Homo sapiens: one gene and its partner. The protein of the gene in region 2 interacts with the protein of the main gene of each other region in a pairwise test. Each region holds a gene or a part of one and is shown on either strand. Other genes may lie near its edges.

What was found. The genes of interacting proteins can lie anywhere in the genome.
Region 1: the proteins of PBXIP1 (region 2) and DEF6 interact in binary tests that used the Homo sapiens proteins (3 or more experiments, as listed by UniProt).

What each region holds. Positions count from the first base shown.
Region 1 is NC_000006.12:35,314,570-35,322,044, forward strand, and holds the end of DEF6 (differentially expressed in FDCP 6 homolog), read left to right. Parts: intron 1-3,321; coding exon 3,322-3,430; intron 3,431-3,603; coding exon 3,604-3,902; intron 3,903-4,954; coding exon 4,955-5,121; intron 5,122-5,249; coding exon 5,250-5,448; intron 5,449-6,314; coding exon 6,315-6,405; intron 6,406-6,617; coding exon 6,618-6,841; 3' UTR 6,842-7,202; downstream 7,203-7,475.
Region 2 is NC_000001.11:154,952,625-154,960,598, reverse strand, and holds the start of PBXIP1 (pre-B-cell leukemia transcription factor-interacting protein 1), read left to right. Parts: upstream 1-4,499; 5' UTR 4,500-4,530; intron 4,531-6,841; 5' UTR 6,842-6,877; coding exon 6,878-6,928; intron 6,929-7,974. Other genes in the region: PYGO2 (pygopus homolog 2), read left to right, coding at 753-1,820. UniProt on the Homo sapiens protein: Regulator of pre-B-cell leukemia transcription factors (BPXs) function. Inhibits the binding of PBX1-HOX complex to DNA and blocks the transcriptional activity of E2A-PBX1.

The DNA of each region.
Region 1 (7,475 bases), on a different chromosome or scaffold from region 2:
GAGAAATATCTATTCAGATCTTTTGCCCATTTTTAAACTGGATTATTTGGTTTTTTGTTACAGAGTTGTTTGAGCTCCTTATATATTCTGGTTATTAATCCCTCGTCAGATTGATACTTTGCAAATATTTTCTCCTATTCTGTGGGTTGTCTCTTCACTTTGTTGATTGTTTCCATGGCTGTCCTGAAGCTTTTTAGCTTGACATAATCCCATTTTTCTATTTTTGGTTTGGTTGCCTATGCTTTTGAGGTCTTCCACAAAAAATCTCTTTGCCCAGACCAATGTCCTGGAATATTTCTCCAATGTTTTCTTCTAGTAGTTTCATAGTTTCAGGTCTTACATTTAAATGTTTAATCCATTTTTATTTGATTTTTTTATATGGTGAGAGATAGGGGTCTAGTTTCATTCATCTGCATGTGGTTATTTAGTTTTCCCAGAACCATTTATTGAAAGGACTGTTCTTTCCCCATTGTGTGTTCCTGGAGCCTTTGTCAAAAATGAGTTCTCTGTAAATGCATGGATTTATATCTAGGTTATCTATTCTGTTCCATTGGTCTTTGTGTCTCTTTTTATGCCAGTACTATGCTGATTTGGTTACTATAGCTTTGTACTACATTTTGTTTTTTTGTTTTATTTTAGAGACAGGATTTTTCTCTGGTGTCCAGGCTGGAGTGCAGTGGTATGATCATAGGTCACTGCAGCCTCAGTCTCCTTGGGCTCATGGGATCCTCCTGCTTCAGCCTCCTGAATAGCTGGGGCTATAGGTGTGTACCACCGTGGCCAGTTCGTAGTGTATTTTGAAGTCAGGAAATGTGATGCCTCCAGCTTCGTTCTTTTTACTCAGGCTTACTTTGGCTATTTGAGGTCTTTTGTAGTTCCGTATAAATTTTAGGATTTTTTTTCTATATCTATGAAGAATGCCTTTGCTATTTTGACAGAGATTGCACCAAATCTATAAATTGCTTTGGGTAATATTGTTATTTTAACAATATTAATTTTTCCAATACATAGCATGGGATATCTCTCCATTTTTTTGCATCCTCTTCAATTTATTTCATCAGTTTTATAGTTTTTCTTGTATAGATCTTTCACTTTGGTTACATCGATTCTTAGGTATTTTACATTCTTTGTAGCTGTTGGAAATGGGATTGCACTCAACTTCTTTTTCAGATTGTTTGCTGTTAGCGTATACAAATGCTACTGGGTTTTGTATGTTGAATTATCCTGCAACTTTACTGAATTCATTCATCAACTCTAACGGTTTTTTGTTGGAGTCCCTTTTTTTTTTTTTTTTTTTTTTGAGGAGGAGGAGGAGTCTTGCTTTTATCGCCCAGGCTGGAGTGCAATGGCACGATCTCAGCTCACTGCAACCTCCGCCTCCCGAGTTCAAGTGATTCTCCTGCCTCAGCCTCCCAAGTTAGCTGGGATTACAGGCACCTGCCACCACACCTGGCTAATTTTTTTTTTTTTTGTATTTTTAGTAGAGACAGCATTTCACCGTGTTGGCCAGGCTGGTCTCAAACTCCTGACCTCAGATGATCTGCCCACCTCGGCCTCCCAAAGTGCTGGGATTACAGGTATAAGCCACTGTGCCCGGCCTTTTTTTTTTTTTTAAGAGAGAGACAGGATCTCACTGTATTGCCCAGGCTGGTGTCGAACTCCTGGCCTCAAGCAATCCAACCACCTCAGCTTCCCAAAGTGTTAGGATTACAAGTGTAAGCCACCACGCCCCATGGAGTCTTTAGATTTTTCTAAGTAGAAGACCATGCCATCTGCAAACAAGGCTAATCTGACTTCTTCATTTCCAGTTTGGATGCCCTTCATTTCCTTCTCTTGCCTAATTGCTCTGGCCAGAACTCCCAATACTACATGGAATAAAAGTGGTAAAAGTGGGCATCCTTGTCTTGTTCCAGATCTTAGAGGAAAGGCTTTCAATTTTTCTCCATTTATTACAATGTTAGCTGTGAGTTTGTCATAGATAGCGTTTATTATTTTAAGGTATGTTGCCTCTATACCCAATATTTTAGGGCTTTTATAACACGATGTTGAATTTTTTTAGAAAGCTTTTTCAGGGTCTATTGAAATGATCATATATGGTTTTTGCTCTTGGTTCTGTTACTATGATGTGTCATGCATATTGATTTGTGCATGTTGAACCATCCTTGCATCCCTGGGATGAATCCCATCTGATCATGGTGAAAGATCTATACTCACAATATTGTACAACCATCACCACTATCTATTTCCAAAACTTTTTCATCACACCAAACAGAAACTCTGTACCTACCAAGCAATAACTCCTCATACTCCCTGACCCCAGCTCCTAGTATCCTCTATTCTGCTTTCTGTCTCCATGAATTTGCCTTTTCTAGGTATCTTACATAAATAGAATCATAAAATATTTGTCCCTTTGTGTCTGGTTTCTTTTACTTAGAAATGTTTTCAGGCTTCATCTATGTTGTCAAATATATCAGAATTTCATTCCTTTTTAAGGCTGGATAATATCCCTAACAGTGTGTGAGGATCTCAGTTTCTCCATTTCCTTACCAACAGTTGTTTTTCCTTTTAAAAAATTATCATAGCCATCCTAGGATCTGTCTAATTTTGTCACATAAGGTGTTACTGTGGAAAGGAGCACGGATCTACGCAGAAGTCCAAGCCTCATCACTAACAGACTAACAGTGTGAGGTGGACAATCCTGGAGCTCTTAGTGCCTCAGTTTCTTTCTCTGTAAAGTGGAGCTAATAATGCCTGCCTGGCAAAGCTGTATAGGTGGAGTGAAGATAATGATGCATATAAAATACTAGTACAGACTCTAGAATGTGGTAGCTATTATTTTCCACAGAATGTAAACTTAATGGAGGCAGAGATTTGGTCTGTTAGGCACACCTTAGTATCCCAACCCCTGGAGCAGTGAGTGGCACTCAGTAGGCACTCCAAAAACATCTGCGGAATGAATGAATGAACTCTTAACAAGCAGGGCTATGTGGAAGTGAGTTGTCATGGATAGTGAGGACCCTGTTACTGGCAGTGTTCAAGCGTGATCTGCATAAACACTGAGTGGCGATTATGTACTGGGCCCCGTGGAATAATAGCAAGATGGAAACGCACCCACCTAGCCTTCAAAGAGCAAAGGCTACAGAGTTGTGGGGACTTAAGTCCCCCATAACTTATGATGCAAGCCATGCAGGCTCCTGGCAGAGTGGGGTCCCCAGGGAAGATAGCCAGGAGGGCTAGGGGCTTGAGCTGGAGCACCCTTGGGGCAGGTGGGGCCCTGACCCAGTGAGGCCAGCCTGGCTGCGGCCACCTACCCTGTGCCAGGTGCTGCCAGACCGCGACGGAAAGCGCTGCATGTTCTGTGTGAAGACAGCCAACCGCACGTATGAGATGAGCGCCTCAGACACGCGCCAGCGCCAGGAGTGGACAGCTGGTGAGTGCTCGCTAGGTGGCTTGGGTCTGGGTGGTCCTTAGGCGCCTCATCTGTGAAAAGGGGGTGATAATACTTTGTCCAGCGGGAGGTTGGAGAGTGGACTCGGGAAACTCCTAAGGCCCCTTTCGGGCCGTGTGCGAGGATCCTACTGACCCGCTCCCGCTCTTCGGCAGCCATCCAGATGGCGATCCGGCTGCAGGCCGAGGGGAAGACGTCCCTACACAAGGACCTGAAGCAGAAACGGCGCGAGCAGCGGGAGCAGCGGGAGCGGCGCCGGGCGGCCAAGGAAGAGGAGCTGCTGCGGCTGCAGCAGCTGCAGGAGGAGAAGGAGCGGAAGCTGCAGGAGCTGGAGCTGCTGCAGGAGGCGCAGCGGCAGGCCGAGCGGCTGCTGCAGGAGGAGGAGGAACGGCGCCGCAGCCAGCACCGCGAGCTGCAGCAGGCGCTCGAGGGCCAACTGCGCGAGGCGGAGCAGGTGGGGTTAGCTCCCGGCGCCGGGGACGGGACCGGTGGGCTGGGAGGCTGGCCAGGGGCGGAGCGCCGGGGGCGGGGCCTGGGCAGAGGGCGGAGCTCCTGGGTTGAGGGGCGTGCACTGGGGTGGAGCTTGAAATGAGGGATTGTTGGGACAGAGTCCGCGGGTTTGAAAAAGAGATTTGGGATGGGGCTTCCGCCAGGGACAGAACCTGGGGCTAGGAAAGGGGTGTGGGGCGAGGTCCGAGCCCGTGGATGGATGGGGCCTGGTTCGGAGACCTTGGCTGTGGGTTGGGGCTTGGGCAGAAGGAGCCGTTGAAGACCGTGTGATTGGGGATTAGACTGGACCAAGTTTGGACTAGACTTGAACTAAGTTTACAGTGAAACCAGTTTGAGAGGCAAGCGGGACGCGTATGGAGGCGGACTAGGTGTGCAGAGGCAATTAGATTTAGGATTTAAGAAACCTGGATCTGGAGTCAGAAACACGTAGATTCAATCCTAGCTCTGCTTCTTACGAGCCCCGTGATCCCAGGCAAGTTCATTTTACTGAGCCTTATCAGTAAAATGCTAATGCTAATAGAACTTTGCTCACAGAGGTACGGTGAGGATTAAATGAGGAAACACTTGTAGTGTCCAGTAACTTTTTGTTGTAATAATTGTAGTTATAGTCACATCCTTCCTAGCATCAGCCATGATTATAACATATTATTATATATTATAATAATTATTAAGTTAGTGCTAGGAAGGAGATGACCATATTTTTATATCTTATTTAATTATATAATGTTGTTTAATTACATGTTATATAATTATGATTAAGGTTGGTACTAGGAAGGAAATAACTTGAGCCCGTTTCCCCCACGTGGCATCTGTTCACCGACCATTATCTGTTCCAGTCAGGCTCTCAGAAAGGGGTCAGATCAGGAAACCCCAACATGAAGGAGTTCCCCAGACCCTCACCCCTAGGCAGCTTAGCAACATGCCCACCCCCTCCTCCTCCGCCCCCACGTGCCCCTTTTGACCTGGCTCTTGGTCCACCACCTCCCCCCTCCACAGGCCCGGGCCTCCATGCAGGCTGAGATGGAGCTGAAGGAGGAGGAGGCTGCCCGGCAGCGGCAGCGCATCAAGGAGCTGGAGGAGATGCAGCAGCGGTTGCAGGAGGCCCTGCAACTAGAGGTGAAAGCTCGGCGAGATGAAGAATCTGTGCGAATCGCTCAGACCAGGTAGGCCTGAGGAACCTCTTCTGGTTCTCTCACCACCCCTCCTGGAACACACCCCAGTTTTCCTGCTTGCTGTGCACCTGCAAGGTGCCTTGGCACTAGAGGCTACACAGTACACACTCACCCGGCAGACTGCTGGAAGAGGAGGAAGAGAAGCTGAAGCAGTTGATGCAGCTGAAGGAGGAGCAGGAGCGCTACATCGAACGGGCGCAGCAGGAGAAGGAAGAGCTGCAGCAGGAGATGGCACAGCAGAGCCGCTCCCTGCAGCAGGCCCAGCAGCAGCTGGAGGAGGTGCGGCAGAACCGGCAGAGGGCTGACGAGGATGTGGAGGTGAGGCCTGGGGTGGGATGGGGTGGAGGCTGGCAGGGTGAGCTCATTAGGGCACAGGCTCTGGAGCCAGGCTGCCTTCCCTCAAACCCTGGCCCTAGCAGCTGCTGGCTGTGTGACTTTGGACAAATGCCCAAACTTCTTGGAGTTAGTCTCTCACCTGGGAAACTGGTAATAGCGTTGTTATGAAGATTAAATGAGATGATACATGATACTTAGTACGTAGTAAGTGCTGAAGAAACATTTGCTGCTATCTTTGTTCACATCATTATTAATCTGGGGAAAAATTTTTCCTTCTACCCTTCCAAGCCCCTGTCTTGCTATCCTTGTACTTTGGCTCTACTCCTTGGAGCTTTAATCTCCATAAATTCAAACACAGAAATATGGAACATAGAAAGGGAAAATTCCTCCATGATCCCCCCCACCTCACAACCACTGCTAATGGCTCCGTGAAATGTTGAACAGAGGTTCTTGGATTAGGTGCTGGAAAGGTGGTGTAGTGCAGTGGCTTAGAGCTCAAGTGTATCCCTGGGCAAGTCACTTAACCTCTTTTGAACTTTTTTGTTGTTAACTTCTGCTCTGGAAGTTAAATAAGATAATAAATATGCTTAGCACATCTTAGCTGCTCAATAAACGGAAACTATTATTATGGTTACATTTTATCTTTTGGAAGTCCATGAGTCCCATGAAATTGGAGGCAAACTCTATTCATGTATGTATTAATAACTCTATGAGCATATATGGTTTTTCTCTGGGGAGATGATCAGTAGTCTTGGTCAGATTTTAAGCAGCCTGCGAACCTGAAAAGATCAAGACTCCATGCCATGGATGATGGTTCTGATCACTCCCCACTGGCCCTGTCCCCACAGGCTGCCCAGAGAAAACTGCGCCAGGCCAGCACCAACGTGAAACACTGGAATGTCCAGATGAACCGGCTGATGCATCCAATTGAGCCTGGAGGTGAGAAGGAATAGACTCTGGAGCTTTCCCTGGAGCTGGGAGGGAGAAAGGAGGGAGAAAGGTCTCCCTGGGAGACCTCCAGATCTCCCAGGGCCAGCAAAAGCAGGACTGGCAGTCAGGAGGCTCCCCTCTCCTCTGAGGGCTGAGGCAAGGCCCCTCGCCTCTCACCTTTGCATGCCTTTCTCCTTACTTGCCTGCCTTCTCTCTGCCAGATAAGCGTCCGGTCACCAGCAGCTCCTTCTCAGGCTTCCAGCCCCCTCTGCTTGCCCACCGTGACTCCTCCCTAAAGCGCCTGACCCGCTGGGGATCCCAGGGCAACAGGACCCCCTCGCCCAACAGCAATGAGCAGCAGAAGTCCCTCAATGGTGGGGATGAGGCTCCTGCCCCGGCTTCCACCCCTCAGGAAGATAAACTGGATCCAGCACCAGAAAATTAGCCTCTCTTAGCCCCTTGTTCTTCCCAATGTCATATCCACCAGGACCTGGCCACAGCTGGCCTGTGGGTGATCCCAGCTCTTACTAGGAGAGGGAGCTGAGGTCCTGGTGCCAGGGGCCCAGGCCCTCCAACCATAAACAGTCCAGGATGGAACCTGGTTCACCCTTCATACCAGCTCCAAGCCCCAGACCATGGGAGCTGTCTGGGATGTTGATCCTTGAGAACTTGGCCCTGTGCTTTAGACCCAAGGACCCGATTCTTGGGCTAGGAAAGAGAGAACAAGCAAGCCGGGGCTACCTGCCCCCAGGTGGCCACCAAGTTGTGGAAGCACATTTCTAAATAAAAACTGCTCTTAGAATGAATTATTGGCTCAGGTCTGTCCATCTCTCCTGCCATTTCCTCCCTTCCTCCCTCAAGCCCCGTTATAGGTTCCAAAGAGCAGTAAAAGTATAATAAAGTGGTTAAGAAAGACCCTGCAGCTAGACTGCCTGGGTTCTGAACCTGGCTTTGCTACTTACTAACTGATTGACTTTGGTCAATTTTCTTTATATCTCTGTGTTTCAGTTCCCACGTTGGTAAAATAGAGATAATGACTGTACTTACCATATAGGGTTATATGAGGATTAAGTGGCACA
Region 2 (7,974 bases):
TCTGGGGGTTAAAAATGTTAAATACATGCTCCACAGTCTTGAGGTTGTTTTTCAGGGTCAGAGCTGGGATTCCATCCTAGTTCTGCCTGTTTTTAAAACATAGTTACTGCACTATGTTGGTTCCACTCTCCACCCTCTTTTTCTTGTCTTTTTTTTTTTCTTTTTTCTTTTCTTTTCTTTTCTTTTTTTTTTTTTGTAGTAACAGAGACTTGCTGTGTTACTACTCAAACTCATGGGCTCAAGGGATCCTCCTGCCTCGGCTTCCCAAAATGTTAGCATTACAGGTGTGACCCACTGTGCCTGGCCTGTGGTCCATTTTTTTTTTTTTTTTTTTGAGACGGAGTCTTGCTCTGTTGCCCAGGCTGGAGTGCAGTGGTATGGTCTTGGCTCACTGCAAGCTCCGCCTCCTGGGTTCACGCCATTCTCCTGCTTCAGCCTCCCGAGTAGCTGGGACTACAGGCGCCCACCACCACGCCCGGCTAATTTTTTTGTATTTTTAGTAGAGACGGGGTTTCACCGTGTTAGCCAGGATGATCTCGATCTCCTGACCTCGTGATCTGCCCGCCTTGGCCTCCCAAAGTGCTGGGATTACAGGCGTGAGCCACCGCACCTGGCCTGTGGTCCATATTGATTTTAGACCTGAGCTGCCCACAGTATCAGCCTCCAAAATGTGTATTGTGTTGGTAGTGCTCTCTTGGTTTAGCTCTGTGTTTCCCTCCATGACCCTCTTTCCCTCAACTGTTTCTCACTAGGGCCCTGCATACTCACATCTGACGGAGTTTGCACCACCCCCAACTCCCATGGTGGATCACCTGGTTGCATCCAACCCTTTTGAAGATGACTTCGGAGCCCCCAAAGTGGGGGTTGCAGCCCCTCCATTCCTTGGCAGTCCTGTGCCCTTCGGAGGCTTCCGTGTGCAGGGGGGCATGGCGGGCCAGGTACCCCCAGGCTACAGCACTGGAGGTGGAGGGGGCCCCCAGCCACTCCGTCGACAGCCACCCCCCTTCCCTCCCAATCCTATGGGCCCTGCTTTCAACATGCCCCCCCAGGGTCCTGGCTACCCACCCCCAGGCAACATGAACTTTCCCAGCCAACCCTTCAACCAGCCTCTGGGTCAAAACTTTAGTCCTCCCAGTGGGCAGATGATGCCGGGCCCAGTGGGGGGATTTGGTCCCATGATCTCACCCACCATGGGACAGCCTCCCAGAGCAGAGCTGGGCCCACCTTCTCTGTCCCAACGATTTGCTCAGCCAGGGGCTCCTTTTGGCCCTTCTCCTCTCCAGAGACCTGGTCAGGGGCTCCCCAGCCTGCCGCCTAACACAAGTCCCTTTCCTGGTCCGGACCCTGGCTTTCCTGGCCCTGGTGGTGAGGATGGGGGGAAGCCCTTGAATCCACCTGCTTCTACTGCTTTTCCCCAGGAGCCCCACTCAGGCTCCCCGGCTGCTGCTGTTAATGGGAACCAGCCCAGTTTCCCCCCGAACAGCAGTGGGCGGGGTGGGGGCACTCCAGATGCCAACAGCTTGGCACCCCCTGGCAAGGCAGGTGGGGGCTCCGGGCCCCAGCCTCCCCCAGGCTTGGTGTACCCATGTGGTGCCTGTCGGAGTGAGGTGAACGATGACCAGGATGCCATTCTGTGTGAGGCCTCCTGCCAGAAATGGTTCCACCGTGAGTGCACAGGCATGACTGAGAGCGCCTATGGGCTGCTGACCACTGAAGCTTCTGCCGTCTGGGCCTGCGATCTCTGCCTCAAGACCAAGGAGATCCAGTCTGTCTACATCCGTGAGGGCATGGGGCAGCTGGTGGCTGCTAACGATGGGTGACGCTGGTGAAGTGGCCCAGGGAAGTGCACATGTCTCTCCCTGCTCTTCCAGGGTGATTTTTTTGATGTTTGGCTCTTGGTCCTTGTTTCCACTGGCTTTCCATCCCCATGGGGCAGAAACAGTGGCTCCTGGGAGCAGAAAAGGAATTGAGGTGGGCAGGCAGAAGAGCCTGGATTGCTCACTGTTTTGGGAAACTTACATGTTGAGATCTACAGAGATCCAGGAAACCAAAGCCCTGCTGAGCAGAGCCATTTTGTGGCTATTTCTGGAGGCCCAGGAGTGTGGCTGCAAGAGAAAAGGGGCTGGAGGAAGATCCGGAGGGCAGGGGTGTTCCCTCTGCTGATGATGGATGCCCCTAACACCTGTGCCTAACACCCCTACTGAACCCCACAGCTCCAGCCTTAGTTTTTGGAGTCAAGTGTTAAAGGTTTCTGGCCAGAGGAATTGGGGTCTTGCCATCCCTGCAATAGCCCTTTTATGGGCTCTGGGAGACAGCTTTAGGGAATAAATGGGGATTTTCCCCTTTTTCTACCCACTCCTTTGCTTCCTCCAAGACTTACCCAACTCCTTCCCCCTCAGAGAACCAAATAGCCTGAGGAAGCAGGAGAGTTCCTGGTTATGGCAGTTTCTTGGTGATTTGGGGCTTCAAGACAGTAGGTGAGAGATGCTGTCAGGACGTATCTTCTTCATACCAAAGTCACTGGTCCTTTCTCAGCCTCTCTCGTGCTTTTCTCCTAATGACCATATTTTTGCCAAAAATTGGGATATGTTATCTGACAGACCAGAATATTTGAAGTTTGGGCTGTCCTGAAAGTCTGGACTTTGGTGGTACCCTCCTCCCCCAGCCCATCTGTTGCACATTATACTCCGTGTGTTCTTCAACTTTCGGCGCCCTTATTCCCCTGCCTTCCTGGCTTGATTGAAGGAAAGCTTGAAAAGGCGCAGAGCCCTATACCTCATTTCCTCCATGATAAAAGGATCCAAGTGAGGCCCTGTCACAGCCTGTGGGTAGGGGATGCGGCGGGATCCTCATTGCCATGGTACTCAAAGGTAGAAGAGCCTGGAGTTTGTTGCTTCTCTTTGCTATTCTTTCATATCCTCTTGGGCCTGGTGATTAATTAGCAATTCTCATTCCTCTCAGCCAAAGGCCTGCACTGGGCTTTATTTGTCTTTTTTTATTTTTTAAGCACTGCCTGCCAGAGATGGGCCTGGGGCCTGATGAGGACCTTAGCGCTGCTCGTTCTCCTTTTCTGTTCATGCACACATTCCTCCATGGGGTGGGGAAGGCAGGCATGGGGTGTGGCCCTCGGAGAAGTTAGGAGTCCCCCAGCTCAAGATACAGTGGCAAAGACCTAGTGGTCCCCTACCCCCACTTCTCTCAGTTCCTGGCATGAGGAGAGAAGACCCTGCTCTGGTGGAGCTGACAACCTTTGAGGCTGGGAGGAGAGCAGCCTCTGGGCATCGTTCCCAGTGTCCCTCACACTAAAACGGCGTAGATGGCAACCCCCCACCCCCACCCCGCTGCTCAACTCTTGTGTTTGTTGTTCTGTTTGCCCCATTTATCTGTTGCTGTTTTTGTGTTGTCTTCCCCTGCTCCGCATTTTGTAAAATGGCCCCTGGGGGAGTGTTTTTGCTGGATCTGCTCCCTCTCGCTCTCTCACTCCACTACTTTTTGGAACAAAGTGATGGCAGAATGCGGTGGTGGTGGGGGTCTTTTGTACTGTTGGATTAATAAAATGATTTTAAAATCCCAGACAAGGACTCCTTGCTGTTGCTGTGTGAAAAGGCTGGAATGAGCCGCTGTCACTGCTGGGTAGGGTGCTTAGGGGTTGAGGATATGTATGCTCCCCAGGGTCCCTGGGAGTGGGAATGGCAGATTTGGCCCCTGAGCTGACCCTGGTATAAGCTGCTGAGCCAAGGGAGGCCTGTGTTTCCCCGCCCATCCCCCTGTGTCTCCACTGTGAGAAACTGAGTTTCCTTTTTGAGCATATTCCTGGGCCAGGCCTGGAGCCAGGCGGATTTGGCACCACAGCCTCTGGAAGACAAGTGCTTGAGCTCTTCTGGGTTTAGCACCCCACCCACCTCCCAGTTGTTTGGGTTAGGGAGCAAGTGTCGCTCTAAGGGTGAGGGGAGGGGCTGCTTCTGTCCTAGCAAATTTCATTTTGGGATGTTTTTCAGATCGTTCCCGTCCCCCAACCGTTTTTTAAAGTAGCAATGGCATCTTTTAAGCAGTCTGTTTTGGAGCAGATTGGGGAGAATGGCAGGAGGGCTATTTCCACACCCTGGATTTGCGACCTGTCCCTCTCCCTTCCCCCATCTCACAGCTGTCTCTGTCTATCCTGGGGCCAACCTGGCCCCTTGTCTTCGTCATCTCAGAAGACGGCACCGTCTGCTTTTCTCTCAGTTTGTGGGGGTTCCCTCTAGAAACTGTTTAGACACTGGGAAAGAAGGGCAGGAAACTCAGGATTCGGTTAGCTGGGACCCCGGTCGCCCACCAGGAGGTAAGCCCAGGTTTAGGGCCGTGTCGCTAGACCTCCCTTCCCCTCCCCTGGCTCTCAATTCCTGCTCTTATTGGCCAAAAGTTTCCGCCCCCTTGGGGAAGTTGACTTTTCATTGGTCAGTTTCTGGTCACATGATTTTCTTCTCGGGCTGCAAACAAAGGGAAGCCTGCAACAAGTTAAGCTGAAGACCGAAGCAAGAGCTGGTTCAGGTAATGCCTTAGCTGGGAAGGGGTCCACAGATTCGCTTTGAAGGGGGTGGAATAAGGAAAAGGGAAGGCGGAACTAATCTAGAAGGAATGAGCTGCTTTTCATTTCTGGGCTGGGGGAGGAAGGCCAGGTGCCGACGCTAACACAACAGGAACTTGCTCTGGGTACCCCAGGCAAGTGGCCCTAGATCCTTTGCTTTAGCGGTTTGGAGGAGCAACTGTTAGAGGAGTTTAAATTAACTAGAGGCGAGACTTCCTAGCTTTATGCTGAGTGGGAGAGCTCCCCCTTTAGCTGTTTTTTAGAAATAGCAGAAGTCTCTGTCATAATCCTTACAGGAGGTGTTTGTTGAATCCTGCCTGAATGAAAAGAAGGGGGTGGAGGGAGGGAGTGGAGGTGGGTTTTCTTCCAGAAGGTCGATGAAAAGAAAAAGATCTGGAAACACAGCAGGGAAGGGTGGAGATTAGACAGCAGAAGGAACTTCCTAATAAGGCAGTGAGATGCTGGCTTGGGAGAAGAGGTGTTTTTTTGAACCCTGGGTTAACCTAACCAAGAAAGAGGTATCAGGGTTTGGAACCCAGAGTATAGGAGTTTCAGAGTGTCTCCTATTTGGGTCTCATAAGTATTTGTTTTGTTGACCCAAATACCTTTGCTGGTTTCCATGGAGACAGTGGGTCTGACATCACTGTGGTTGCCATGGTGCCTGGTTCTAGAGGACCTGAGCAGGCTGCACACACAGCTAGGGATAAACAGGGACTTCAGCCCAAGCTGCTGCCACTTCCTTCCTGCCACCACCTGTTAACAGTCAGCAACTGGGGATGGGGAGATGATAACAAGGGCGGGGGTGGAGCCACAAGCGGAAGGCTGAACAGCCATGGCTCTATGGATACTTACAGATGCATGCCAGGGTGTCCTGTTGGATTTGGTACAGGGAGGTCATTGCAGCCATTCTCCTGTCTCCGTGTGGAATGGGTGCATGTGTCTGGGAGGATGGGCATTGGGAAAGACCTATCCAGGACTTGGATCTTGACTGGCAGGAGCCACAGGAGGTTACTTAGGGCACCACGCAGGACTTGAAAACAGCTCAAACAGAAGGGGATAATGTGGTTGGTTTCAAAGGTAGAACTGCCATACTCTCCCAGCCTCACTTCCCTTTTCCTGAGTTTTCTTATAAAGTGCTCGGGAAGCAGTCATTTATCCTGTTCTGAGGGATCACAATCCAGTACTCTTGAGAGGTCAGCTCATCTATCCTTCCACCTTTATGCCTGGTCCCAACAGGAGCTGCCTGAGGGAACTGTTTTAGCCTTGGATGAAGGGGCGGATCCCTCTCTTCTTACCCTGCTTTGTGTCAGTCAGGCTTTGGAAACTGGAGTGATTCCCTCCCCTATCCCTGTCAAGTCAGAGCAGATTAACCGGGTGCAGGACCATAGCCCTGATTTTTGTCTATTTTTTGCAAGCTATAAAGTGATGTATATATACATGATAGTTGCCATAAATCCATTTTCCCAGTCACCTTCAAGTTCCCTAAGACCAAACTCTGGCGATTACTAAGAAGGTAAACAGAATTTAGGATGAAGACTGAGAGTGATGAGGAGACTTATAAAAGGTGCATCCAGGTGGATCTAAGCTATGCCAGTGGCTCTTAACCCTGGCTGCGCATGAGAATCATTTGAGTGGTTTTTTAAAAGACCCACAGCCGGGCCTACCCCCCAACTCAATTGAATCAAAATCTTAGGTGATTCCAATGTGCAGCCAAGATTGAGAACCACTGAACTAGACCATACCAAGGACTTATGCTGGGCAAGTGGTGGGACACTTAGGGCTGAAGGAGGCCATTGAGTCTTCCCTTCCAGGTCCTGGGGGAGAAGGTAGTGATTGTGTAGGTACCTGGTGTTGTGAAGGGAGGGCTGTGTTGTTTCCCTGCTCTTCTTATTAACAAGTCTTCTTATTGGCAAGTTGAGTCTGTCAACCTTGCTGGGCTTCATCTTCCCTGACTCAAATGTCAGGGGGCTGGACTGGAATTCCCCAGAGCCTTTCCAGCCTATGCTACTTTGACCTTTCAAGGTCAGTTCAGTTTTCCAAGGCCCTGTTGGTCCCTGGAAGAGGCTGGCTTCTCTGTGGGTGTTGGCAGATTCTGATTTGCAAGGCAAATACTGCTTAGAAGAGCTGGGGTGTCAGGGAGAGAAGGACTGGAACCAGGCTTGGTTCTGGAGGCTGCTGCCCAGCACTTGAACCTTGGAACCCAGCCAAGGCTGCTTTCTGCATTCTGCCCCTCCTGAAGGGAGCTCCCATCCTTAAGAGAGCTTTCTTCTGCAGGTGGCAGCCACAGCAGCCTCAGGGACCTCAGCAACTATGGCCTCCTGCCCAGACTCTGATAATAGCTGGGTGCTTGCTGGCTCCGAGGTAGGAAGAGCGGGCCTGGGAACCATGGGGGTGGGGTTGGGGGGTGTTTCTGCAGTGCTGGGCTTCTTTCTTGGTGGGTCCTTTTCCTTAGTCCTGATGGTCACCTACATCACTTCCTGCTGGCTGTTAGAGGAATTCCAGTAGCAGGAAGAAGTAGATCAGGCCCCAGGGGTCAGGTGTTGGCACTTGGACCATGCCATGAAGGAAGGGACCAGTTGGGTAAGCTGAGACAAGTAGGGATGGATTTCGAATGGAGAGACCAATGTGAACAAAGGTCCTGAGGCGATAGTGGGGAACGCCATGCTGGGGGAGACTGTGGGACACCCATGGGTGATGTGGAGACGTGGGTTGGAGCCAGTGTTGGAGTGAGGTTGGGGACAGAGCCTGGGAACCCCTGGAAGAGACCGGAAGAGCCTGGCTGAGGCCTTCAGGCCTCATCCTGATGGGAAATCAGTGTGGGGCTTTGGGTTAGAGGGATCAGGACAATCATTGTCTCAGGCAGAGGGTGAAGCCACTGTGCATGCTGGGTGGGAACAGGGAGAGAGTGTTTCAAAGACCCCCTGCAGCAGTCCAGGTAGCAGCTGGTGGGGCAGAAGCCCACTGAGGAGGGAGAAGGGGGTTGGCAGGATGGGGAACTGAGTGGCTAGAGAAGGGATGGCAAAAATTTGTCAAAGGCATCTCTGAGAGTTCCAAGACGTAGCGACTTTGTATATTAGAGCCACCAGGAGGGGAGGAGGAGAGAAGCTCAGTTTCAACATGTTGAGTTTGAGGTGCCCTTGAGGAACCCAGCTGGGAGTAAGGAGTTGACCTTGGGGATGACGCTGGAGCAAGATAATGGACTGGGGCTCACTGGCAGAGGGAAGGCAGGTATGAGCAGACGGGCACCAGGCTCTCAGAGCCCTGGCCTCCTGTTGAGGTGTCTTTGTTGACAGCTGGGGGACCTTGGGCATGCCATTTCACCTCTCTGTCCTCTCCTGTAAAACGGGCGTCATGATTTTTGCCTTGTAGGGGGGACCATGAGAATAAAAATGTTTTGAAAATAGCAA